2 separate regions of the Homo sapiens genome follow, and region 1 is linked to region 2. Evidence: fine-mapped expression QTL. A gene starts in region 2. The other region holds a variant in brackets. All regions are shown on one strand. Distances are between the middles of the regions. Region 1 overlaps GDPD5 (glycerophosphodiester phosphodiesterase domain containing 5). Region 2 holds the start of GDPD5 (glycerophosphodiester phosphodiesterase domain containing 5).

Region 1 (5,368 bases), 46 kb after region 2:
AAAAGGGTGGTAGAGGGCAGTGTGGCTGAACTGGGTCTGCAAGGCCTGGGTGACACCGCTGGAGACATCCAGGAGCTGCTGGCTATCTCGATCAGAGGCAGAGCCTGGGTGGCCTTGGCAGCACCTGGTAACTAAAGCCGTGAGAGTGGACAAGATGGCTGCAGCCAGGAGAGCATACAGAAGAGAAAGAAGAGGTTTGCCTCCCAGAGAATCCCCTACACTTATGAACAGGACAAAAATGCACCAGGGGGAGAGGAGACTCTGAGAGCCAGTATCAGCGAAGTTCTGGGCCGAGGCATGACGCATGCACTTCTACTTCCCTCTTTTCCAGGTTTGAAGTGGAATTTCCATTCCTGGGTGGGTTGTAATGTGCAGTCGTGGGGACAGGGGAGGGGCGGCAGAGGACATGTGGGAATTAGTCCCAGGGGCAGGGGGGTCCCGGGAAAGGAGTGTGAAGGCAGGGGAACCTGGGGCGGGCTCCCACGTGCATTGCAGGATGTCCACCTGTTGTACCTCAGCATTGCAGTACCTCCTGGCACTTTTCCCCCTCCCTGCCCCCAATTGTGTGTCCTATAGAAGTCAAGGCAGCAGCTGTTACCTGCTTTTACAGATTCAGAAACCAAGGCTCAGGGAAGAGCCTGAGTGGCCCCAGCCACAGAGCAAGTCAATGCGAGGCAGCATGAAGCTAGGCTTCTTTCCACATTGCACCCGCCTCCTCCCTTCCTGGGGAGGCGGGGGCAGATGTAGTGGCTGACATGACAGTAGAGAACCCTGTCTAGGGAGTGCACAGGGTGAGATCTGGCTCCCCTGGCTGTGGACCCTGGCCTCCCACCCCTGCGGGAAGGCTGGGAATGTGGGGGTGCCTATGTGGGCACGCAGCACTCCCCAAATCTGGAGTATAGTAAAGCTGAGAGCACCCTACACCAACCCCCACCCATGGTCTCTCTAGCCCCATGGGAGCCAAGCTGTGTCCCCACCCCAGCCTGTCCCCCAGGCCCTGGCTCAGGGAAGCCCCAGCAGCTGCACCATAGTCCACAGGCCTCCCCAGGGCTCCCCGGAACAGAGGCTGCAGCAGTCAATTCCCAGCACTCAGGAGACTCTGGGTCATTCAGTATTCCCAGCAAGCCCCTAATGCATCTTCCCCCTCAGACTGCAGGCTGTAATCTCCGCACTGAGGTGAAGTCAGCATTGGGTGGTGGTGTTGGAGGGATAGGCAGAGGCCCTGAGTGAGGCCTGGTGGTAGAAGTAGTGAGTGGGCCTGAAGCCCAGCGTGCTCCTACGGTGCAGCCCCTGGGGCCTTGGAGAGTGGCATCTTAGGAGCTCATCTACCAAGCCTTGGCTCAGTGCTGACTCCAGGGAGCATACTCTGACCCTCCCTGCACTTTGGTCAGTGCCCACAGGCTCCCTTTCCTCCCTCCATCATACACTGCACTTACCATAAGGCTCGTGGGCCATTAGAGCCCAGTCACTGTAGGAGTCTGCAAACTTTCCCTCTAAAGGGCCAGACAGTCAGTATTTTAGGCTTTGCAAGCCATATGGTCTCTGTGGCAACTACTCAACACTGCAGTTACAGTTAAAACAGCCGTAGACAATACATAAATGAATGAGCATGGCTGCGTCCAATGAAATGTTATTTATGGACACTGAAATTTGACTTTCATATAATTTTCATATGTCACAAGATATTTTTGTTTTGACTCTTCACAACCATTTAAAAACATAAAGACTATTCTTAGCTTTTGGGCTGTACAAAAATAGGTGGCAGATCAGATTTGGCAGGCCCATGGGTTAGAGCAAGGTCCCTGGAGCCAACCTGCGTGGGTATGAATCCTGGCTCTGCTGGGTGTCCTTTGGTAAGTGGGTCAACCTCTCTGTGCTTCAGAGTTCTCATCTATAAAATGGGGATGATGATGATGATACTTTGGGGATGTAACATGGTGCAGTCACATTGGAAAAGTTTGGCAGTTCCTCAAAAGGTTAAACATAAAAGTTACCATATGATCCAGGTGTGGCAGCACATACCCGTAGTCCCAGCAACGCAGGAGGATCACTTGAGCCCTGGAGTCTGAGGTGGCCATGAGCGATGATTGCACTACTGCACACCAGCTTGGGCAACAGAGCAAGACCTTATCTCAAAAACA[A/G]AAGTTACCATATGACACAGCAATTCTTTTTTTTTTTTTTTGAGATGGAGATTTGCCCTGTCACCCTGGCTGGAGTGCAGTGGTGCGATCTTGACAACCTCTGCCTCCCAGGTTTAAGCGATTTTCTTGCCTCAGCCTCCCGAGTAGCTGGGATTACAGGTGCCCACCACCATGCCCAGCTAATTTTTGTATTTTTAGTAGAGATGGGGTTTCACCATGTTAGTCAGGCTGGTCTCGAACTCCTGACCTCAAGTGATCCACCTGCCTTGGCTTCCCAAAGTGCTGTGACCAGCAATTCTATCCCAAAAGAAATGTGTACCCAAAAGAAATGAAAACACACGTTCACACAAAAAACTCATTCACAGAAGCATTATGTATAACAACCCAAAAGTGATAACAACCCATATGTCCATCAGCTGATCAATGGATAAACAAAATGTGGTAGATCCATACAACAGAATGTTAGACATAAAAAGGAATGAAATGCTGATCCATGCTACAACATGGATGAGCCTTGAGAACATTATGCCACGTGAAAGAAGCAAGACACAAAAGGTCACATATTGTATGATTCCATTTATACGAGGTCTCTAGAATAGGCAAGTCCATAGAGACAGAAAGTGGATGAGCAGTTGCCAGGGCCAGAGGAGTGAAGCCAGGGTAAATAGGGAGTTACAGTGCATGAGAAGGGGGTGGGGGGTTGTTGGGATGGTGAAACTGTTTTGGGATTAGATAGTGGTGATGGTTGTACAACTTGTGAATATACCAAAAATTGAATACTGTATATTAAATACTGAATTGTATACTTTAAAAGGGTAAATTTTATGGCATGTGAATTATATCTCCATTTTTTAAATGCAAATCCTTCCTTCCTTCCTAGGGCTGCTGTTATAGTTTCTGCATGGAAAGCACTTGGAACAATGCCTGGCTGTTCCCCTCTTTGGCCCTCTCAGGGCCCTAGGAGCCTTTGTGTGTCCTGCTCACATTGTCTCCAGGGCCTCGGACAGGGCCTGGTACAGAACATATGACTGAGTTTCTGGAGTCCCACAGGCCAGCGTTGGAGTCCTGACACCTCAGTATAGCTGTGCACCTCTGGGCAAATAGTTTCTCTGCTCTGAGCCCCAGGTTTGTCATCGGCAAAATGGAATAAGAATAACTCACAGTGGTGTGGAGGACTGGATGACACCTGATACTCAGGGTGTGTGAGGTGCCCCAAGCCCATTGCCACCTGGTCACACTTTACCAACACTGGCCCCCAGAGGCCGAGGCTCCCACAGATATCTCCAGGGTGCCAAGCAGGGCTGGGGCAGTAGCTTCTGGCAGCCACACTTCAACCCTCAAGACACCTCTTGCTGCTATACCATCCTCCCACAGGCCCCACCCGGTGAGGGAGCTCCCTGTGTCTGGAGAATGAATACTTTGGGGCACTAGAGCAGTTCCTAGATTGACTACAGTCCAGTTATGGGACAGCAGCCAGGCATTGCTCCTTGTTCTCTGAGCCTCAGTTTGTTGAACTGTCAAATGGGTTTAGGACACAGAACCTGCCACTTCAGATGGTTGTGCTGATGAGATGGAACAATGAATGTAAAGTATTTACACGGTGCCTGGTGTATTTTAAGTGCTCAACACATCTCAGCTTATATGATAATTTCTTCTAAAATGTTTATTTTGAAAGTCTGCTATGTGCTAGACACTGTTCAAGTTACTGGGAATACAGCAGAAAATACAACAGACAAAAATCCTTGCCTTCATGAAAACTGCATTATAGTAGGGTAGACAGACAGGAAAAATAAGCAAGTTATATTTAAGGACATGATTGAGAAAACAAAGCTGAGAATGTGGGAAGGAGCTTAGGGAATGTGGGAAGGGGCTACAGTTTTACAGAAGGTGATCTGGGACAGTCTCATTGAGTAAAGGACATGTGGCCAGGTGCCATGGCTCACGCCTGTCATCCCAGCACTTTGGGAGGCTGAGGCAGGTGGATAACCTGATGTCAGGAGTTCGAGACCAGCCTGGCCTACATGGCAAAACCCCAGCTCTACAAAAATACGAAAATTAGCCAGATGTGGTGGGCACCTGTAATCCCAGCTACTTGGGAGGCTGAGGCAAGAGAATTGCTTGAACCCAGGAGGCAGAGGTTGCAGTGAGCCGAGATTGTGCCACAGCACTCCAGCCTGGGTGACAGAGCAAGACTCTGTCTCAAAAAGAAAAGAAAAGGACATTTGAGCTAAGACCTGAAGAGAGGAGGGGAAAGAGAAGGAAGCCATGCAGGTTTCTAAGGGAAGAGCATTCCAGGCAGAGGGAACAGCAGCATGCTAGGCCAGTGAAGAACATGGAAGAGGTCAGGAGTGGCTGGAGGGGAAGGAGTAGGGAGGATGAGGGCCTGGGTGGGAGGCAGAGGACAGGTCCTTGGGGACCTGCAGGGGTGGGCCTGTGACTCCAAGTGAGACGGAGCCCCACTGCAGTGCTTTGAGCAGGGGTGACCCTCCCTGACCTAGGCTACAATGACTTGCTGTGTGGTGCCTGACTCCTCACCCTTCCCCTGCCTCACTGCCCTGTGCTTCCTCCTGCAGGACAAGCTGGGGGCCTCCATGGGCGCCTGAGGGCCAGGCGCCAGGGCCGTGGGCACGAGTATGGTGAGACACCAGCCCCTGCAGTACTACGAGCCACAGCTGTGCCTCTCCTGCCTCACGGGCATCTACGGCTGCCGTTGGAAGCGCTACCAGCGCTCCCATGATGATACCACACCGGTGAGCCACCCTGGAACAGGGTCAGAGGGACCCAGTGAGCCCCAGCAAGCCTGAGGGGCTGGGGGAGGGGTCTTAGCTCTGTCTCTGCTGACTCGCTCTGGACAGGCCAATGGCCTTTCTGGGTTTCAGTTTCTCCCTCTGTAAAATGGGCTTATAGTAATTCCTGAATCTACTGACCAGGAGGGCATGGAAGGAGTTTGTCCTGTTGACAAGTTGTTAACTCTCCTCTGACATTGTTGAGGTTGGGCTCCTCTAGAAGGGAAGGGTCACCCCAAGGTGAGCAGAAGTTCTCAGCTTCCTGGCAGATCTTGACAGGCAGGCAGGCAGGCAAACAGGCAGGTGCTGGAGGAGAGGGTGAGGAGATGGGCCTGGCCATCCTGGAGCCTGGGAGCTGGCAGGGCCACGGTCTGGCACCGGGGCTCAGTCACCTGAGCCACAGGCTTGCCAGAGCTGGCAGCAGGTGCACAGCCGGATAAA
Region 2 (5,368 bases):
GCAGCAGGGGCAGCCAGAGAACTCTCTGAGAGCCTCATTCATCTCCCAGTGCCGAGATCTCACAAGGGCAGGCCATGTACCAGGCTGGATGGTGGCGGGTGGGAGGGAAACCAGACATGGAAATCAATCATTACAGAACCTTCAAGCTGAGGGAGCCCAGACCAAAGGCAGGCAGCCTGGGGGAGTTCAGGAAGGCTTCTCGGAGGTGGTGATAAATCTTGGTGGAGATAAATCTTGATAAATCTCATGAGAGATGGGTCATTTATTCAACAATTGTTTACTTGGCACCTACTATGTGCCAGGCTCCGTGCTAGGCTCTGGGGATACAGCAGTGAAGAGAACAGATGAGCATTTGGCCTAGAGGTTCTGCCCTTCAGCCCAGCAGAGAAATGAGAATTAACTCCAGAGAGAAGGGGAACAGCAAAGCAACACATGGAGGAGACAACTGCATGGAGACAGAATGCATCCTGCTTGCTGATGGAGCTGAGAGAAGTTGGCGCAAGTAGAGAGGGAAGTAAGCAATGGGGAGATGAGGCTGGTGGAGTCAGCAGGCAGAGAGCAATAACAAAGGGGCTGGAACGCCAGGCTAGGGATGTAGGGCTTGGTCATGCTGGCAACCGGGAGCCAGAGAGGGCTCTGGACAGAGGGAAGGGCCACAAGGTTTCTTAGCGTCAAGTTCAACAAGTAAAGGCAAAACTGCCTTCTCCCAGCCCTCAGGCTCCAGAGACCAGTCCCAACTTCCTGGGCCCAACTTGCCTACTCCCAACCCCTGGGCCTGAAGAAGACAGGGCACCCTCAAGTCCGCAGCCTGAACTTCAGCCTCCAGCTCACCCTCTTCTTTGTTCTTCCAACCAGTCTCTCAGCCATAGTCTGATGCCATTTCTTTTGCAGGGAATGCCCATGCTTCACCCTCTGAAGCCTGCTGCCTGCCCAGTCCCTCACCTGGTTCCCTGCCAAGTAGCACCTTTATTCTTCTTTTATAGATGAGGAAACAGAGGCTCAGAGAGGGAGAGTAACCTGTTAAAGCCACACAGCTTTACCCTAGAATTTGATAATGATGGGTGGATAGAACTCTGTGCCAGCTGTGTGGTCTCGGGAACGTCACTTAGCCTCTCTGTGCTGAGTCCTCATCTGTGAAATGGGGTACCTATCACAACATAAGGTTGGTGTGAGGTTTACAAAGAGACTGTACTGTGCCACCAACATCCCTTAGCTCCCCAGGCCAGTTAGCGGCTTTCACATGGTCCCTACCCCACTCCCCCGCGGCACACATTCAACTTTCATTCATACATCAGTTCCCTCCAACACCTTCTCTGCGCCTGGTCCTGTGCACACACTGAAGACGGCTCCTTGGCCAAGCACAGGGCTCACACCTATAATCTCAGCACTTTGGGAGGTCGAGGCAGGAGGATCGCCGGAACCCAGGAGATCGAGACCAGCCTGGAAAACATAGGGAGACCCTGTCTCTACAAAAAATTTAAAAATTAGCCAGATGTGGTGGTGCACGCCTGTAGTCACAGCTACTCCGGAGGCACAGGTGGGAGGATCTCTTTAGCCTGGAAGTTCGAGGCTGCAGTGAGCCGTGATAGTGCCACTGCACTCCAGCCTGGGCCACAGAGCGGGACCCTGTCTCAAAATAAAATGAAATAGAAAATAAAGACGGCTCCTGCACCCAACGCGCGGGGTGGGAAGGGGCGGGAGCGGACTGCAGATGCATCACGATTCGAAGTGTGTGTCCTCACACAACTCTGCTCTTGAGTTCGTATTTTTAAAATTGACCACGACGCTCCTCCTCGGGGATGGGCGCAGGGAAGGGAGGCTTGTGGAAGACAAATTCGCTCATTTCCAAAAACTTATTTTTCACCGTTTCCTGAAATCTGAACACTTCCCAGCCCAACTCTCACCTCTGAGCGCCGAGCACTAGAAGCTAGGGAGAAGCAAGGTGTCGGTGGCATCCCACCACTCAGGAGGGCTCGCTCCAGCGTCCCTGGGACCCCTGACCCCGGATATCCTCCACCTTGCCTCGCCCCGGCTTCTTTTCCTACACTGGCCCCTGCTCCTTCCCCGTGACCCCCGCAATCCCCGCACAGCAGTCCCCATGCCCCCGTCCCAGGCAAGCCAGCCCTCTCGCCTCTCCCTCCTTCCGGGTCCCGAGGCCAACCCCCTCCCCGATTCGGCCCGTTCCGAACCCCCAGCCCCGCCATTGTCCTCTTGCAGCCGCACCTCTCCATTGTCCGCCCCGCCCTCTCCGAGGTAGAATCCGCTTTCCGCAGGGCGCCGCTCCGCTCCCACCCTCGGATTGGCTCCTGCGGCCCCACGCGCGAGGCCCGGGAAGGGGAGAGGGCGCGCACCCCGCCCCTGCCCGCAGCCGGCCGGGGGCGGGGTCTCTGCTGACTCCGCCCCGTCCGGGCGGGGCCGCGCAGGCTGGCGCTGGGGCGCTGGGCGGCGCTGTTTCGGCTGAGCTCGGGCTGCGGCTCCGGTGGGGGTGGGTGGCGGGGATGACAGCGGAGGTGGCAGCGGCGCGGCGCTGAGCGAGCGGCGAGGGAGCAGGGGAAGAGGAGGAAGTGGAGCCGCGGCCGGGAGCTCGGGAGTCGGCCGCCGCGCCGAGGTTCGCCCCGTTTTGCAGAGAGAGCCGAGTCGGGACCTGGAAAGACTTCCCCGCGGGGCTCCGGCCGCCGCGCCTCCCCGCCGGCGCCTGCCCTGCCCTGCCCGTCCCAGCCCCGCGGTTCGGGGCGTGCGGCCGGGACGCGCGGAGCCCCGGCCCTGACCCGCTGCGCCGGGACGGGACGCTCCTAACGCCGCCGTACCGGTCCGTGGTTGCAGGGTCGCTCCGCGCCTTTCCGTCAGTGAGGGTCGGAACCCCAGCTCCAGGGCTAGCGCAGTGTGGCCCCAGGCCCTCGCCTCCGGTGCACGGGACCCCGGACCCCCCCAGCCTCTGGCTTCACGAGACCCCAACCTTCAGTTGGAACAGCTTGGAACAGCGCGAGCGCCCGGGAAGCCCTGGCCGGGTCGTGCGCTCGGTGAGGGGTCCTAGGCGGGCAGGACAGTCGGACCGAACCGCCGGGCTGGTGCCGCGAGCCCAGGCTGTCACCTTCGTCCCGCCTCAGGTGAGGGGTTCAGCGCCTGCCCCGAAGATAACACAGGGGTCCCCTTCTGTCCCGGCGGCCTGCGAGAGCCAAGGCTGCAGGTGAGAGCCCCGGATGCGCGGCAGGAGCGGTCCCCGACCCCATCGCGGCAGCGCGGGGGCCAGCGGAGGGAGTGTCAGGGGAAACAAGCAGAGGCTGGAACTGGCTGGGAGGGGGCGCGGGAAGGGGAGGGGAAAGAAAGAAAACGGGTACTTATTGAGCGCCCATTGTGTGCGGGTTCGCGCCCTGCCCCGCCCCGCCCCGCCTAAGCCTCACTGCTACTCCTGAAATAGGTGTTGTGTATTATTATCGGCGCTTGCAGATGGAGAAACTGAGGCTTAACGGGGCTGAGTGACCTCCTTTCACTGCGGGGAGGAGACTGGGGAAGCGGGAGAGGATAGAGGGGGAAGAGGCAGAGCACTTGAGCGCTGATGCTAAAGCTGAGGAAGTGGCTTCTTCTTGCCTCCCGCTCCCTGGCCATGTCACCCGCGAGGAAAGGTGACTCAGAGTTGAGGGTAGAGGTGGGAAGCTTCCCAGTTCCAAAGCTTCTCTCCCTGTGGGCCCAGGATGTGAGAGCAGCAGCTCCTGGCCCTTGTGTGTCAGACTCCAGGGTCTCTAAGACACTCTGGAGGTCCTGAGACGTGCTTATCTGTTGGTGAATTCACTGCAGAGATCCCCAAGTAAGGGTCTGTCAGAGCTGGAGATGTAGCCCCTCTGGGGTGGCTGGAGATGTGGCTCACGTGACTCACCTCCCTCACATTACTAATGGGGACACTGAGGCCCACCCGAAGGGAGTGCCAGTTGTCCGATCCTAAAGCCAGTGAGTCCTTGAGCCACAAGTAGACTTGAGAAAACCTTCCTGAGCATCCTTCAAGGTATGCACACTCCTCCCCAGTTAGGATCTTCTGGATAGGTGGCTGGGGCTTTCCCTATCGCTGATGTGAGATCTGGGCGACCATGTATGAGGCTGTGGTGAGAATTAGTGTGGTTGGTTGCTGGGGCCCCGAGGAATGCCTGCAACCGCATTGCCTTTGGCCCAAATGGAAGGTCCAACCTCATTTTCTTCTGGGCAGGGGAACCTGCAGGATACCTCTGCCCAGGAAGGAAGGGACCTGCTCAAGGTCTCAAGGCTGGGGGCTCCCAGGGCTGGGGCACAGTCCCAGGTGTCTTTATTCCCAGGCAGGGGATGCTTCTGCTGCCCCCAAGGCATGTAGGGAGAGGGGTGTTGTGAAAGAGCCCTTGGCATGGACTCTGTGGGCTCTTATTCTGTGTGGGGACGGGGAGGGGATATGGCCTTGGTCTGGGCCCTGTGGCCTTGGCTAGGCCTAGTTAACCCTAGAGATGCCCAACTCCCTGGAGTCAAGGGGAAACCACCTTGGAAAGCCCCTGGAAGGTGGAGGAGCGTGGTGAGAGGTCTGTGGAAGTCTGAAGCTCAATCCCTGGGGGTGGAAGGGTTAGGGGATCCCAAAAGACAAGGTGACTGAGGGGCTTGGGATTCCCTCTACCCCAGACCTCTGTCTGGGGCTTCAAATCCTCGCAATAATCTCTATGTCTAAACAAAGCTCTTTGATGAAATAATTTCACACCTGTGATCTCCTTTCATGACGTGGAGAGAGCCTGGAACCTAGAGTGAAGCAGAGGAGGGTTGCAGAGTCACTTGTGACCTCTTGATGCATCCATGGTTCCAAGTGCCACTTTAAAATAGGTTATGGCAGGCTGTGTGTTACCTGCTCAGTTAGTGGGGCCATCACATCTGGCTGTCAAGTGCTAAGGGGCATGTTGTACTTGCCAAGACTGGGGAGGTTATTAATGGCCCAGTCTCGTGTGGGCAACTGAAGCTCAGAGAGGTAAAACCACTTCCCCAGGGCCTTTGAGTTTGCTTGTAGAACTGTTTGAGTGCCAGCTGCATACCAGGTGCCCTGGAAGTTACCCAGACGGGCTAAGCGGCAGCCTCGAGCCACAGTAACTGGTGAATCCCAGATAGTGGTAAATCAGACAGACCAGGTGGGCGTGAGTCTACTGTGCCTCCCACTAGCTGAGTGGCACTGAGCAAATCACTTCATCCCTCTGAGCCTATAAAATTAGAATACCTCCTTTAGCAGGTTGTTGCGAGGATTAAATGAGCTACAAAGATGCAGTGCCTGGCCAAATATCCGTTTCCATCCCTATGAAGAAAAGGAAGCTTGAAGTTTGACCAGGAAGTCTGGGGAAATTCTCAGACTTGTCTTCGATTAGAACGCAGG

What was found. PIP is the estimated chance that this variant, and not a neighbour inherited with it, causes the effect. A credible set is the group of variants that fine-mapping cannot tell apart.
Region 1: its variant is the best candidate, but not a certain one, in a credible set for the expression of GDPD5 in whole blood (TOPMed, PIP 0.69).

The regions. Positions count from the first base shown.
Region 1 is chr11:75,477,142-75,482,509 of GRCh38, reverse strand. It overlaps GDPD5 (glycerophosphodiester phosphodiesterase domain containing 5), which reads left to right. Exons shown (of 17, transcript NM_030792.8): 3 at 4,715-4,891. The coding sequence starts at 4,775. Among named protein-coding and RNA genes, the nearest start is that of GDPD5, 46 kb to the left of the region's middle. The variant A/G (reference allele first, on the strand shown) is at 2,142.
Region 2 is chr11:75,523,029-75,528,396 of GRCh38, reverse strand. GDPD5 (glycerophosphodiester phosphodiesterase domain containing 5) reads left to right here and starts at 2,456. Exons shown (of 17, transcript NM_030792.8): 1 at 2,456-3,187. RefSeq lists silencers at 2,129-2,188, 2,239-2,758 and enhancers at 2,605-3,105, 5,033-5,082.